2 separate regions of the Homo sapiens genome follow, and region 2 is linked to region 1. Evidence: fine-mapped expression QTL. Tissue or cell type: whole blood. Region 1 holds a variant in brackets; the other region holds the start of a gene. All regions are shown on one strand. Distances are between the middles of the regions.

Region 1 (8,339 bases):
TGAGAGAGACCTATTTTTTTCCTCTATGTCCCAGAAGAGAATAGCTACGTCACAGATATTAGTCTTCCTTGTCTTTAGGGGAGTATTTAGAGGCTTTGTTTTGATGTTGCAGTGTCCTGTAGGGAGGAAGAGGCTAGGCTCCTTTACCAGCTTGCCAGCTTGCTAACCTGTTTAGAAGGGAAGGTGGGGTATAGATACTAACCTCTCAAGACCCAGGCCAGAGTCTAGCTAGATTTAACACCTTCAGCTGGATACAATGACCACCTGGACCAGGTAATCTTTTCACATGCATAATTTAAAGTATTATTTCAATAGTTTTTTGATTATAAAAGTAAAACATTACTATTGCAGGAAACTTGAAAAGTATAAAATAGAAAGTTCAAACAAGAAAATTAGAAACACCCCAAATCCTACCACTCAGAAATACCCACTGTCAATATTCTACACACTTCAACATAATTGAGATCCTAGTTTGTATACAATTGTTTGTTGCCGAACATTACGTCATAACCACTTGTTAAACCTTTGAAAATACTTCTTAAGCATTATTTTTAATAGCAGGTTTACACAGAAGAAGATTCTTAGTTTATATAACATATCCTCTATTGTTGATATTTAGATTGTTTCAAAATTTTTCTGCTTCTATATTCTGTTCAAAGAATGACTTTCTTCATAAAGTTTCTTTACTCTTTAGATATTTTGGTAGGATGATTTTCTAGCAATAGATTTATGTCAAAAGATATGGATGTTTTTTAGACTCCCAGTATGTACTATCTTTATAGAACTATTATGTTGCTGTATCCTCTGTTTAATTTTTGTGTTTCCTCTTACGCTTTTCCGATAGGGTGCAAGATTTTCTGACACTGAGAATGACTATGTCCACCAACGCTAGGCCAACCACTCTAGTGCCAATCAACTGATTAATGACGGTCCTTTGACTTTGACTTAGACCCTGTGAGAGATTTTATAAGAAGTGAAACATATGGTTGTGTTGTAGAAGTTTATAATCCAGCAAAAGTAATGCATGTGGAAAAATTCACAAACAATTCAAGATAGAATCTCTGTAACCCTTCTTTGTAGGACACATGTGCAATAGGAATCTGAGGTCTCTACAATGTATATTCCCAATGATTATTGTGATCAATCCTGGGGCACCATCTATTCTAGGTTTCAGGGAGCAATTTCTTATTCTCTCTTTTCAATGAAGGTGTCTCGACATACCAACCGTTCATATCATGTTCATAGCGTGATCTTGAACACAAAACCACACAGCCTCTCATTCTGGAAGGGCAAGAAGCTGAGCCTCTGCTAGGAAGTGTTTCTCTGTCAGACTCTCCAGCTAGAGTCTAGCTGCTCTTTCCAGAGGCAGCTCCAGGCGAAGGACTTTCTTGTTGTTTGTAGCCACAAGTCCGACAACTACTTTCCATGGTGTCTCTCTTCAGGGGTGTTACTATTCAGCATTGCTCTTGCATATCCTCCCATCAGAGTAGTTCAATAGACTCTTTGGTGTCTGCTGAAGTCTGGCTTTCTGGGCTCCCTCTCAAAAACGGCATATTTAGCCTTACTCTTGGCATCACCTCTGCAGGGCGTCGGACAGCACTGCACCCATGGCTTTGCATAAGTTCTCAACCCTTCAGAGGAATGAAGGAAGCTGCAATTGCCCCCAATTCATAAGCCAAGGGTCTAGGCACTGCCTTCTTGTTGAATGCTGACCAACATTCAAATTTAAGTATTCTTGCCTATCTGATAAGCAAAAATGTTCCTGATGTTTTAACTTGGAAGAAATTATTTCAATATCATGATTTCCATAATTTCTATCATTTGGTGTTCTTATAAAAGCTATCTCTCATCTTATTCTGGAGATCTTTCCTTCACATAGGAACCTCTACATGACACAGAAAAGAAAAGATAGATGGGCGGCGAGAGTCTAGATTTATATTCTAGCTGTTATGCATGGTGAGGCCAGCTTAAGAAACACGTGGCTTTTGAAAGACTTTCCATTGTATAAGGAGCAGACCAGACTTTTAACCACAATCCAGAGACTTTTAACTTCACAAAGATATGGCATTTTATTTTAATAAAGCTATCGAGAGAGCTCCCTTTTCGAGTGACTTTTCAAACGCATCTTTTGTCAGCAGAGGGCTTTTATTAGCTAATGTAACCTTTCTGTACTCCATGTTAGCAGAGAGAGAAAGGAAATGTCCTTGGGTTCCAAATGTGGAAAGTTGTGCAGAGACTCTCAAGGAGAAAGAAGTTTTCCGCTTTCCAAAGCTGCATTTGTCACTCGCTGTTGTATCGTAACTGAAAGTAATGAACTTTCCGATGCTACTGTCCAGAAGGTAAAGGTTTACAAGATTATGCCTCTAAACTGGCAATTGCATAAAAAGAGATCACCAAGGATTAAAATGTAGAGACCAAGTAAAAGTGTGAATTTAGCTGTGAGTGATAACTTGTAGAGACTCAGCTATAAAATACCTGAAATGGGGGGAGTTAGGCAAGACCTAGGAGTGAGGAGTGAGAGTAACAGTCTTGGCTGTGGAACAGGGTAGCTAGATGTTTAGGGCTTAATCCGAGCCACTACTGATAATTAAACAGCATCGATAAACTGAAGGAGCATGGGGAAGGAGTATGGATTGTGGGCTCCGGGTGCAATTCATGTGGGGTGTCGGTGTTGTGGTTCCATTAATCAGTCGTTTGATGGAAGAGCTCAGTCAGTAGTGGAAGAGGCTGGTGGCAGGGGCTTTGACAGGTCTTAGGACACTGGGAAAATAGATTGAGATTCTAGAGCAGGGCTAGTGCAGTGTGGGATCTGAACGTGTTGTCAGGACTGAGCCCAGCCCTTTGATTACAGTCAACATAGTAGGAATGGAGAAAGTCACACCTAAATGGGAACCTGAACCAGGGCTTCATTTCAAAGCCCATGGAACAGATAGGGAAGGGTGACTAATGACTTTTCTACTGTTGCAGACTGGCTTACAAACTGAGTAAGGCACAAAAGGAAGAACTGGTGTTGATAGCAAAGTGTCATCAGAGAAGGCAGGAAGGACACCCTGTCATACTGCCCGTTGGCTCCCCAGATATCACTATTTTTTTTTCCTCATCCTTGTTAGGAACTGGCAGGTAGTTGTGCTTGATGTCTATTAGACTTCATTTCAATTTTGAGGTCCATAATTCAATGGGGATAGATATAAAAAGGCTTCCTTTTTCATTAAAAGGGTAATTACCTCGTTATCAGAGTGCTGGAAAGATGAGAGCTCATGGATTTTTCATAAAATTATAAGTTTATAAGGAGTCGGGTGAAGTCATCTTATTCTGTCCTCAAGCCAGGGACAAATCTAATTCACCCTTGATGGATGGGACATTGTTTAACAAGGATCTCTAGAGAATAAGCGTTGATAACTTTCAGTATTTTGCAACCTTCAGTTGTGTTATTTCTTCTATCCTGTTGAATATATTGACACAGAATGGAAGTCCATAATTTTTTTGTTCTCTTTGGGTAGAAAGAATAGTGTTATAAATGTACTTCATTTTCATTATGTTAAAGAATACTTATCAAATGCCTTGTATGTGCTTGGTGCCAGATACAGCTGTGACACAGGGAAGAAGACAGACTTGATCCCTGCTGTCATTTAGCTGTGAGACTCATGAGGGATAATAACCAATAATCACATCAGTAAATGACTACAAATTGTAATAAGTGCTGTGAAGGAAACACTAAGGCATTGCTACAGAGGATAACAGGAGGAAGCTAAGACCTCACTGAGCCTGTGGCTCCGGCCGCTGAGTGATGGTCCCTTCTGTCTGCCAGGGTGGGATCGGGCACTCATCCAGTTGCAGGTGCGAGCACTATTGAGTAGCACAGGGTCTCAAGCTGTGGCCATGGACTTGGGCAACAGGAAATTAGAAATATCCTCTGGAAAGCTGGCCAGATTTGCAAATGGCTCTGCTGTAATACAGTCAGGTGA[C/T]ACTGCGGTAATGGCCACAGCCGTCAGTAAAACAAAACCTTCCCCTTCCCAGTTTATGCCTTTGGTGGTTGACTACGGACAAAAGGCTGCTGCAGTAGGTAGAATTCCCACAAACCCTCTGAGAAGAGAGATTAGTACTTCTGATAAAGAAATTCTTACACGTTGAATAGTAGATTGTTCAGTTAGACCTATCTTTCCAGCTGGCTACTTCTGTGATATACAGGTTCTGTGTAATCTGTTAGCAGTAGATGGTATTAATGAACTTGATGTCCTAGCAATTAATGGCAACCTCTGTAGCCCTCTCATTATCAGATATTCTTTGGAATGGACCTGTTGGGACAGTATGAATAGGAATGACTGATGGAGAATGTGTTGTTAACCCAACAAGAAAAGAAATGTCTTCTAGTACTTTAAATGTAGTGGTTGCTGGAGCACCTAAAAGTCAGACTGTCATGTTGGAAGCCTCTGCAGAGAACATTTTACAGCAGGACTTTTGCCACGCTATCAAAGTGGGAGTGAAATATACCCAGCAAATAATTCAGGGCATCCAGCAGCTGGTAAAAGAAATTGGTGTTACCAAGAGGACACCTCAGAAGTTATTTACCCCTTCACAAGAGATTGTGAAACATGCTCATAAACTCACTATGGAGAGACTCTATGCAGTTTTTACAGATTATGAACATGATAAAATTTCCAGAGATGAAGCTGTTAACAAAATAAGATTAGATACAGAGGAACAACTAAAAGAAATATTTCCAGAGGTCGATCTATATGAGATAATAGAATCCTTCAATACTGTTGCAAAGAAAGTTTTTAGAAGTATTATTTTGAATGAATACAAAAGATGCGATGGTCGGGATTTGACTTTACTTCGGAATATAAGTTGTGAGGTAGATATGTTTAAAACCCTTCATGGATCAGAATTATTTCAAAGAGGACAAACACAGCTGCTTTGTGCTGTTACATTTGATTCATTAGAATCCAGTATTAAGTTGGATCGAGTTATAACAACTATAAATGGGATAAAAGATAAAAATTTCATGCTGCACTATGAGTTTCCTCCTTATGCAACTAATGAAATTGTCAAAGTCACCGGTATAAATAGAAGAGAACTTGGGCCTGATGCTCTTGCTGAGAAAGCTTTGTATCCTGTTATTCCCAAAGATTTTCCTTTTGCCATAAGAGTTACATCTGAAGTCCTAGAGTCAAATGGGTCATCTTCTATGGCATCTGCATGTGGTGGAAGTTTAGCATTAATGGATTCAGGGCTTCCAATTTAATCTGCTGTCACAGGTGTAGCAATGGGATTGGCCACCAAAACCGATCTTGAGAAGGGTGAAATAGAAGATTATCATTTGCTAACAGATATTCTGGGAATTGAAGCTTACAATGGTGACATGGACTTCAAAATAGCTGGCACTAATAAAGGAATAACTGCATTACAGGCAGATATTAAATTACCTGGAATAACAATGAAAATTGTAATGGAGGCTATTCAACAAGCTTCAGTGGCAAAAAGGAGATTTTACAGATCATGAACAAAGCTATTTCAAAACCTCAAGCATCTAGAAAAGAAAATGGACCTGTTGTAGAAACTGTTCAGGTTCCATTATCAAAATGAGAAAAATTTGTTGGACCAGGTGGATATAACTTAAAAAACTTCAGGCTGAAACAGTTGTAACTATTAGTCAGGTGGATGAAGAAACGTTTTCTATATTTGCACCAACACCCGGTGCTATGCATGAGGCAAGAGACTTCATTGCTGAAATCCGCAAGGATGATCAGGAGCAGCAATTAGAATTTGGAGCAGTGTGTACTGCCACAATAACTGAAAGCAGAGATACTGGTGTAATGGTAAAATTATATCCAAATATGATTTTGGTACTGCTTTATAACACACAACTTGATCAATGAAATATTAAACATCCTACTGCCCTAGGATTAGAAGTTGGCCAAGAAATTCAGGTGAAATACTTTGGATGTGACCCAGCTGATGGAAGAATGAGGCTTTCTCATAAAGTGCTTCAGTCTTCAGCTACAACTGTTGTCAGAACTTTGAATGACAGAAGTAGTATTGTACTGGGAGAACCTATTTCACAGTCATCATCTAATAATTCTCAGTGATCTTTTTAAAGAGAATTCTAGAATTCTATGTTTTCTAGGGTAATGTGCTATAGAGCAAAATTTTAGTAGTATCTTCCGTTGTGTAGCTGTGTATACAGTATAAATATATTCTAATTATTTGTATTAAAATGCTCATTTACATGTGCCAATTTTTAAATTCAAGAGTAACCCATATTCGCTTAATCTTATTTACATTATAAATCAAGAAATATTATTAAAAGTAAGTCATCCATACATCTTAGAAAAGATTACATACTTTTTTTTCTATAATTCTGAAATATATGAAAAACTTAGATATATGTCATATATGTTATTATAACAGATCTCTTCCTATATCTCATTTGTCTTCTTTATATACAGTAGTGACAATTTACCCTCAGTCATCCTATAGCTCACCTCTTTGCCCAACAACTTTACTTGCCTACGACTGTTCACAAACTGGAACAGGCCATATTCAAAGCCAGTGCCTATTTCTTCAGAATGGTTACTAGACATAGTAAGTTGAGGGAGCTAATCTGATACACTTTTAATAATACGATGCCTTCCAAGTTGGTTACAAAATCATGAACATAGTGGAATAAATATAAATGAGATTCTAACTAGGATGAGGTAGTAATTATGTATATTTTTCAAATTTACCTAAACATAGGAAAATTATTTACTTGTCTAATTGAACTAGGTCACTTTTTGAATATGTATATTGCTCTAATGTATGGAAGTTCTTAGTATAAGAGCTGGAGGAATCATCACTTTCAGTTAATAGATGTTTGAAATAGATGTTTAGAGGTTACTGATATACATGTCAACTTGTTCATTCCCATCATTTAAAATATCACCTTATAATTCCACACAAAAGTAAATGGTATGTGGACGTCATAATTTAGAATATGTTATCTTTTTAAAAATCTTATAAAAATACACCGGACTCAGTGGCACATGCCTGTAGTCCCAGCTACTTGGGAGGCTGAGGTCGGAAGATCACTTGAACCCAGAAGTTCAACACTGTAGTGTGCAATGATCATGCCTGTGAATAGCTACTTCACTCCAGCCTGGACAACATAGCAGGACTCTATCTCTAAAAACAGTTTTAAATCTCATAAAAAATAAGTAAATCTGGCCGGGCATGCTGACTTGTGCCTGTAATCCCAACACTTTGGGAGGGTGAGGCGGGTGGATCACCTGAGGTCAGGAGTTCGAGACCAGCCTGGCCAACATGGCAAAACCCTGTCTCTACTAAAAATACAAAAATTAGCTGGGTGTGGTGGCAGGTGCCTGTAATCCCAGCTACTTGAGAGGCTGAGGCAGGAGAATCTCTTGAACCTGGGAGTTGGAGGTTGCAGTGAGCTGAGATCACGTCACTGCTCTCCAGCATGGGCAAAGAGAGTGAAACTATCTCAAAAAAAAAAAAAAAAAAAGTAGGTAAATTTATGACTCAGGGCTAACTAGTTCATAAAATATTAAAAGTTTAGCTGGTTAAACCAAAGATTTTAAAGATATGTATATTTATATCAAACATTGATCATGTATCTATTGTGTGTAAAACAGCATGTTAGGCAATGTTGATATACTTTCTGAAATATTAAAGATTAATTGAAATTGAAAGATTAAATTAAAAAAAATATGTCATTGAGATGAGTGATCAGGAAAGGCCTCTTTTTTAGAAGTGACATATAACATGAGCCCGGAATTATAAAAGGAACCAGCCTTTCACAATGAAAAGAGCACTCCTGACAGTGGGAGCAGCATGTACAAAGGTCCTGCACTAGAAAAAGCGTGGTATGTTTTGAGAATTTAGAGAGTTCAGTATACCAGGAGCAGAGGGGTCAAGGAAGAAGGTGGCACGCCATGAGATTAGAGAAGTAAGCGGACAAATAATGCCTGATCTTATAGGCAATGGTGAGGGGTTTGGATTTTATTGTAAACGGAATGTCTTTAAAAGATCACTCTGGCTACTGTGTGGCAAATGAACTGGAAGTGGAAAAATCAGAACAGAGAGAGAGGTTAGGAGGCAGTCCAGGAACAAGATGTTGGTGGCTTGGACTAAGGTGGGGTCAGAGAAAGTGGATAGATGTTTTCGAGATACACTTAGGAGGTCTTACTGATGGTTGGCTGTAGGGAAAGAGTAAAGAAAAGATACCAATTCAAGGCTGACACTGGTAAGATGATAGTTCCATCTAGTAGATAGAGAACAAGCAGGGAGGAACAAGTCTGTAGTGGGAAGGATGGGGGGTAGATGTTTACATTTGCACA
Region 2 (8,339 bases), 180 kb after region 1:
CAGATCTGTAAAGCAGGTGAATGCTAATATATGCTAAAACAAGAAATTAAAAAGCAAACTTCACCTAAAAAGACCTTTAGAACAAATGGATCCCTTGGTCACTAAAGTATTGAATTTTACAGATAGGGTTTAACTTTTATCTCTATTCTGTACTTTGAGCCAAAACAAGAGAGAATAAATGTTTTTCTGACTTCATCCATATAATTTCATCCTGAATTAAATATTAATCAGAGCTCTATTCATGAGTTAAAGATACTTTCATTGTTCCCAGAAACATATGATTCTAAATGATCATATGATTCTACAATGGAATTTGCTTTATCTCCAGATTGGCTTAACCCAAAACAGATGTTCAGCATAATTTTTTAAAATTAAATACAATATTTGAATAACCTGACATTAGTGCTGAAATGAATCATTCGGGGAACTATTATTTTGTAACTTAAAAATAAATTTTAAGTAAGCATTGTGCAAGTCTCGTAAAACTGGCATCTGCATCCTATAATTTACCATATTTTATTTATGACTTATGGCCTACTTATGGTGGTATAAAAAGCCCACCATTCTGATTATTTATCATTATTATTTATATTCCACTGGCTTGGGAAGTAGCAATATAACTCCGTAGAGACCGATTTTCTTTAGTACCTAGTATATTCCCATGAGTGTCACTGCTTTAGAATATGTGGTAATGGCTCTAGCAGTTTAGATCAAGAAGGTGGCCTTAGCACAGACTAACCAGAGAGAGATCAATGGTTGAGTTTTTCCTTGCTTTCCCAGAATTTCAGACATTAACCAGAGCTAGCTGAGGTTATGTTTTAGAAACACAGTCTGCAGTTGGATCTGGTCTTGAGATCTTTTATTTAGCAGAATGATCCTTTTCTAATAATTAAACACTTTATCAGTTTTATTTACCAAGGAATGAGTTCTAATCTGTCCTTTCATTAGACTTGCAGAATAACGATTACACAGGCAGGTTAATTGCCAAAGATAAGGTTTCACAAATGTGAGGGTCATTTTTAACTTACCAGGTTTCAAAAATATCTAGATAACTTTACAACAAAATGGTTTATAGTCTAGAAATGTCAAGTTTATTTTAAGTTACCCTTCAACTCTATCAGGAAGACATCAGGCGTGTAGAGTCAAATTAAGAGTTTATTAGAATGATTTGTTACTTTCTGACTTCTATATAGCTCTAAGACACAAAATGCAAACTTGGCTATAACATTTTCTTACTTAAATTTGATTCAATTCATTTTTCCCCATCCTGTGAAAATATTGCCTTATGTATAAAAGGCACTGAACCTGCAAAAATAACTTAAAGGAACATGTAAAATAGCAGACTAACATCTGTTGTCCACCCCTCCCCCGAAACACTGAGCCCTCCAAAACAATGTTGTCTTTTTTTTCTGGCGGGGGTTGGGGGGGTGTTGTATTTTAATGTCCCTTTCAGTGAATATATAGAATACTGGGGCAAATGCTGTTCCGTGAATAGGTTCTTTTTCCCTTCAACAGTGTTTGAGGTTGACAAAAGAAGAGGCCACTGGGGCTGGTTAGTCGTAGGTATTAATATAATCGCCTGCCTCACGTGCGGCCCACACTGCCTGCCTTTTGTTCAGCTGTCGCACAACGCCAAGAGGTGAACAGTGCAGTGTGGTCACGCAGCTAATGTTAGACACGGCAGAAAGGCCCTTGCTCCAGAGTCTACTGCACGACTACCTCCCCGTTCACTGTTATGTGACCTGAAAACCACTCGGGTAACTAGGGTTGGGACAGTTGCATCACCTGCAGTTCTACAGTTTGGTGCCTTAAGAACCGAAATGACTTTGGCTAGACAGTGGACATTCTCAGCTAGACAGTGGACATTCTCAGGAAATCTTCATGTCGGTCAACGACAACGATCTTCTACTATAATGAATAGCTCTGAAGATGAGGACCAAATTTGAGCAAGAGTCAAATTATTAAAAGAAAACTCGAAAAGTTGAGGGGTCAATTCAGAAATCACTTCAAGCCGCCAGAAGTGGGTTAAAGTTACTGTCTGCTTCACACAAACCTTTTCCTAACTAGCTTAGAATATCCAGCTTGAATATTGCACGAATATATACAGCCAGGTAAAGAGCAAGCAGCACTTTGAGCTTTCAATACAATAGCACTTAAAGAATTTGGCTCCTGAATAAAGGTGTCAGCAAACCATGGAATTCCCAAACAGAAAAACTCACACTGCGTCTTTATTCTCTTTTCTTAAGGTCTATTGTTAACTGAAGACTCCTTGTCTTTTCAAATTCCTTCATGTGAATGGATGAGGCCAGACATCTGCCAGGATCCGCTCACATTTGCATGCAAATCAGAGACTTCGGGACACATATGGCCCTGGAGCCAATAACACTTTTACTCTAGATTTATACTGATCAAAGTGCCTTCCTGAACTTTCCACTCCTCCAGCCCTAGCTTTTAAAAATGAAATAATGAGCCTATTCCACTAACATGATTTAGATTGTCATGGCAAGACAAAACAAAACATGTTGTCTTTTAGAAAATCCTCCACGCAAAAGCCAGAGTCGGCAGCACCTGTTCCCTCACCCAATTAGAATTCCACTTTTCCTTTACGATTTAGGTTTGGGAATGAAAATACTTACGGCGGGATGGGATTTAGACTCTTAGCCTTTGCCTGTGAGCTTCAAGTGCTTCAGAACCATTTGTACCCCGGCCAGTCGTTCACTCACGGCCAGGCTCTGTTCTTGGCGCTGGGGCCGCGGCGGTGGACACGGCAAGCGAGGTCCCCTTCTCCTGGATCCGGCATCCGGGCCGAAGCGCCTGGTCCGCGTTTCCGCGCGGGCTCCCCTGGAACCGTCCCGGGACACGCGGCCCTCTCGCTGCTGGACTTTTCCCCGAGCCCCAGCTTGCCAGGCAGGGACTCCCTGGGCGGGCGGCGGGGAAGCGCCGAGTCGGCGGCCGCCCACACCCCTCTCCACGCAGCACAAAGGACACTCGCCGGCAAACTTTCCTCGCTTCTGACCCGGGCCGAGCCGGGAACTCAGCGCCAGCTCTGTTCCTGGCGGGGCTGAGGCTTCCCTCACATTCCAGGCCACCTGGCAAACGTCCTGAGGCTGCCACTCCTTCTGGGCTCAAGGCTCACGGGCTGAGGTCTGTCCCCGCGTGGAGCTCAAGGCTCACGGGCTGAGGTCTGTCCCCGCGTGGAGCTCAAGGCTCACGGGCTGAGGTCTGTCCCCGCGTGGAGCTCAAGGCTCACGGGCTGAGGTCTGTCCCCGCGTGGAGCTCAAGGCTCACGGGCTGAGGTCTGTCCCCGCGTGGAGCTCAAGGCTCACGGGCTGAGGTCTGTCCCCGCGTGGACCGCCGAGAGTTCGGTAGATCCTTCCCAAGGCTCTGACTTCAATACTTTCAGTGCCTTGTCAATTATACCCCTTGCCCCTTTCTCTTACCAAGGCCACCGCCAAGACACCCTTTTTCTTTCCTCTCCCCGTCGCCCGCCACCTTCCTTGCCCTCCTCTTGGCCCTCTTTCCAGCTCCCTGGGCCCCCTTTCCGCGCTGCTCTCCAGCCCCAGCTGCCTTCCCCGGTTCACATCCCGGCAGCCCTCCTCCCTCCCCGTCCCCGGGCACCTCCCTCCCCTGGTCGGCCCCTGAAATCCAGCAGGCTCGGCTCCGGTCACTGCCTTTTTTTGCCTGTTTCTATCTGGCCTGCCTTCCCAACTATCGCTCTCCCACACCTTTTTTTTTTTTTTTTTGGCAAGGGGGACGGGGGGAAACGGGGCACTATATTCTCGTTTCCCGACTTCGTCATTTTCCCCAGCTCCGTGAGCCGCGCCCCCTCGTCCCCCTCAGGCCCGCGATCTTACCCTGAGGTTCCCCAGACCCCGTAGGGTCTCCCACGCCACCAAGTTTGCCTCGACTTCCCCTCGCTGCCTCCCACACCTCCTGCCGCGGCGCGGCCGGCCAGGGACTTACCCCGAGGCCCAGCTGGTGGGGGTGTTGGGGTGCGCGCGGACCCGGCACCCACGGCGGCGGCGGCGGCAGCAGCAGCAGGAGGAGGAGAAAGACGAGGAGGAGGAGGAGGACTAGCTGAGCGGCGCCTCCTTCCCAGCCCGCAGCGCGCACTGGCTCCTTGGGGCACCCCCGGGAGAGCACCAAGACCGGAGACTAGGCGGCGACACAGGCAACCGCTGCTGCACGGGGCTGGGCTCAGTCGGCTCTCAGAGGCCAGGGCAGGGGGAGGCAGGACTGGGAAGGAGGGTCGGAGAAGTGGGGTGCAGAGGGCGGGGCAGCGAGCGGCCAGGTCCGGAGGAAGGCGCCCCAGGCGCCTAGGGATGCCGCCGCCCGGGCTGACGCCGTCGGCCCCTCTCCCCGCCAGGCGGGCGCTTGCAGCCGCGGGCGCACGGGCCTCGCCTCGTTCACCGGCTCGTTGCCGGCGCCCGCGGTGCGCCCCGCTTTGTGCTCCCCGCAGCCGGCGTGCACCTGGTGTAAGCAAAGGCGGTCAGCTGATGGGCCGCGCGCGGATTGGCTGCTCCGCCGTCTCCTCCCCTCCCGCCCGACCCTCTTCGCGGCCTCCCGCCCCCGCCCTCGGCGCGGCCCCGTGCTGGGCACCATCTGTGGACCGCCCAACAAAGGCGCAGCGCGGCGGGGCTCGGGTGGCCGGGCCGCGGTCGCCGCTTTTTGTCTAGGGGACGGCAGGCTGCGGCTGGGCAGGGAGGCGAAGCGCACTGCCGGTTTTTAGCAAAAGACAGACCAAAAGAAAATACACGTCCGTGCTAGGAGGCCAGCTAGGCACAATGGGGCCCCATCTCTTTGCGGCGTAGAACTCGGGCTCGGGGGCTGAGAACCAGACACAGTTCGGCCTGGGGCTGTGGGAGCCAAGTTTCGGGGTGAAATCCGACCCTGCGTCTTAAAATACAGGGCGCGTCCTCGGGCTGTGTGTGCGCGCCCGGGGGCGTCCTCCGCAGACCTGGCCCGGGCCGGTGTCCCTGCCGCGGGAAGGAGGATTCGGACGCTTAACTCAGCGGCGAAGTCGCTTCCCATTGGAGGAGGCTTTCCGAAAACGTTTCTGAAACTTTGAAATTACAGCTTTCTGATTTGTGAGGGGTGGAAGTTGTGTTTAAACAGGCGGCGAGGGACTGAGAAGGCAGTGTTAAGTGGAGGTGTCTCCGAGGAAGGGGAGGAGGGTGGGGACGGAATAGGTCTTCGGAAACTGCGCGTGAACCTGCGTCTCAGCTTCAAAGTCGCCAGCCGGAAGCAGGGCTTCAGAAAAGCCTTGGCACCCTTTATTGGGGGAATCGGCTTTAAGCGAAAGCATCATTAGCCCCTCAGTACTGAACAACTTCTGGCAGAGGAACGTGGTGACATTTCATTATGATGTCTAAACTTAGAACTTCTGGAGAATTTGGAAGGATACATTATTCGAGAATCATCCTTTGGATTCTTCAAAGCCACAGGATACATTCAATGTCAGTAACCATATTCTTGATCCCTGTAACATTTATTGGCGTTTCGCTTAGGTCTCTGATAAATGTTTGACGTCTTTGTGTGTCTTCACACTTTGTTATCCTGAAACTGTGTCATGTAGACATAAATGGTCACAGTTTGTCTTAAAAGTCTTTAGGAAAAGGTGATACTAGCACTTGGGCTAGAAGGTCGTGCAGAGCAGAGGAAGAAAAAGGCCCACTGCTGTCTACAAATGAATGGGAAGATTTAAGATCTTTCAAAGCAAGTTGAGTCTAGACCCTTGCCCAAGTTTTGTAACATGATTTTGTCTCTTTCCCCCCTTTTCATGCAGATTATCCATGGAGTTAGCATGCAGATAGCATGGAGTTTGTCTGATAGAAGTTGGGCTCTGGTGGAAGTACGGAAATTGAATGGTCAGGGAAAGATAGAATGCAGGTTTCTTAGGGAGTCTCTATTAGGTTTCCAGCCTGCCTTCCTGGGAGTGGAAGAGAGATGAGGTTGTGCCCTTCAAGGAGGAGCTTTACAGAGGTAGGTCTTGGAGGAGCAGTCGGAGCAATTAATGATGGTGAGAGTTGCTCTTGGGAGGCCAGATCTAGAACAGCCTCCAGGTTTTGGAAGAGACTTCATGAGAATGGTGTGAGTCAGGGACCAAGGTGTGAATTTTGAAACCAGGCCAACACTGCTTAGGTCCCAGCCCTGCAATTTATGAGCTGTGTCCCTAATGGCAAGTCACTTTATCTCTTTAAGGCTTAATTTCCTTGGCTCTAAAGTAGGGTTAATATCAGTACTTATCCCAAAGGATTGTGATGGTTAAGTGGGAGTAAACATGTAAAATGCTTAGGACAGTGCTTAGTATATAGTAAGCATTCAACGACAGATGTAAGCTCTAGGCATTATTAGGCAGGTATTGAAGACTAAAACAAGACATCAATTCAGACAGGTGGGATAATGATTCCGCATGTGACAGAATATCTCAAAGGCACTAGCTGCTCCAGTGGAGGAAATGGACTCTGTCTCTCCACTGTTCGATTCATTTCTTTTCAAATTAGCATATCATTTATTTAAACTAATTTCCCTCTTCCCCAAGGCAAGAGTGAGAAAGGCAGCTTTTCCCATTTCTACTTGACCACTGCATGCATTTGGTTCCAGACAGAGAGAAGAGCATTATCATTAGGAAGAAATGTGTGTCAGGGATGGGGGAAGGAATTTGGGTGAGAGGATGGGGCTTGCTGTGGACAGAAGAGGAAAAATGAGCATGACAATTATGAAAGAGTCTGAAATGTGGTGTAATTATTAGAAATTTGCTGAATTGCCTGAATTGGTAATTGGTCCAAATTTTAGAAATTACCCTTTTTTAACTCTGCAAAGGGGTTTCGGGACTGTCTTGTTAACTGACACTTAAAAGCTCCTTGTCATTGGGATGGATGAAGAGGAAACACGCATTTTTGCATCATTGGACGAAGAGGAATCAATGAACCAGCATAACCAAATCTCTTACTTGCTTCTTGCTTAAAGAGCTCAAATCCATCTGAATTACTCCTAATGAGCTCACCCAGTCCTGGGATCCTGAATTTATTAGTTAGTAAAAAAGCACTTAATAGTTATTTATTAAGGTGTGGTAGAAGACCTTGGAATTTTTGAAGGAGAACGGAATTGGAGACAAGAGCCCAAGAGTTCCCAGGAGAGCAAGGTCTTATTGTTGATGTAAAGAGTTCTTGCCCCTCGATTGGCTGTGTTGAGACACTACAAACCCCTCTGGATTCCCCTACCAGCCCCTTGAGGTTCTTTAGCTTTGGTTTGAAGGAACATTATCATTGGTGTTAGCCTAATTGTACTGATCTATGTGGTAAATGAGGAAAAAAAAGAAAGATGAAACTTCAGAAGACAGTCGTATTTGAATAATCTTTAGAAGAACATCTGTATTTTGAAAAGAAAATTATCATATGCCTCTTAAAACTGCAATTTTTCAAAGTTGAAAATATGTCTCTCTCTAATTGAAATATTAATAGAGTACCGGTAGTCAGAGTTCTTTCCAATTTCTGAACTGAAATTATGATTTTAAAACAACCACCACCAAGCTCTTAGAGGGTGATGACTGTAGCTTAAAATTTTGTGACTATTGTGATCATTGTTAACTTTCATACCAAATGTATTGTTTCTCTAAGAATTTTTGACAATGAGTGGGTTTACTACATATACGTAGTTCCTGTTCTTCTCGGGTTTTGTTTGTTTGTTTGTTTGTTTACTGCATATGAAACATCCCAACACAAAAAAGGGATTAATTGACGTTTCTGTAATTAAAACTAGTTTTTGCATTTAAGCTTAAAAATTTGACATAGAACTAAAGTGACCAACCATCTTAGTTTGCCTGGGAATCTCCAGGTTTTAGTCCTAAAAATCTCAACATCTCAGGTCACACCTTAGTCTTGGATAAACCAAGATGGTGGGCGGTTCTAAATAGAACTAACATTAATAGGTTTATGGTGCTGTTACAATTTTAGTTGAGTTGCAGCTTTGCAGATATATCAAATAATGTTTTATTCCTGACTGAATAAAGGGTCCTGTTTCCACTTGTAGAACTTAGTTGTTGCAGAGATGTTGACAGTCATTGTATTGGTCCATTTTCATACTGCTATGAAGAAATACCCAAGACTGGGTAATTTATAAAGAAAAAGAGATTTAATGGACTCATAGTTCCCATGGCTAGGGAGGCCTCACAATCATGGCAGAAGGCAAAGGAGGAACACAGGCACATCTTACATGGCAGCAGGCAAGAGACCATGTGCAGGAGAACTGCCCCTTAGAAAACCATCAGATCTTGAGACTTATTCACTATCATGAGAACAGCACAGGAAAAACTCACCCTCGTGATGCAATTACCTCCC

What was found. PIP is the estimated chance that this variant, and not a neighbour inherited with it, causes the effect.
Region 2: it holds the start of LRRN1, and the variant in region 1 is fine-mapped to the expression of LRRN1 in whole blood (TOPMed, PIP above 0.99).

Annotation. Positions count from the first base shown.
Region 1 is chr3:3,979,722-3,988,060 of GRCh38, reverse strand. It overlaps the pseudogene PNPT1P1. Among named protein-coding and RNA genes, the nearest start is that of LRRN1, 180 kb to the right of the region's middle. The variant C/T (reference allele first, on the strand shown) is at 3,966.
Region 2 is chr3:3,795,544-3,803,882 of GRCh38, reverse strand. LRRN1 (leucine rich repeat neuronal 1) reads right to left here and starts at 4,452. Exons shown (of 2, transcript NM_020873.7): 1 at 3,964-4,452. LOC100130207 (a long non-coding RNA gene) reads left to right here and starts at 3,008. Exons shown (of 6, transcript NR_149025.1): 1 at 3,008-3,182. RefSeq lists silencers at 1,304-1,598, 4,132-4,241, 4,382-4,471, 4,482-4,551.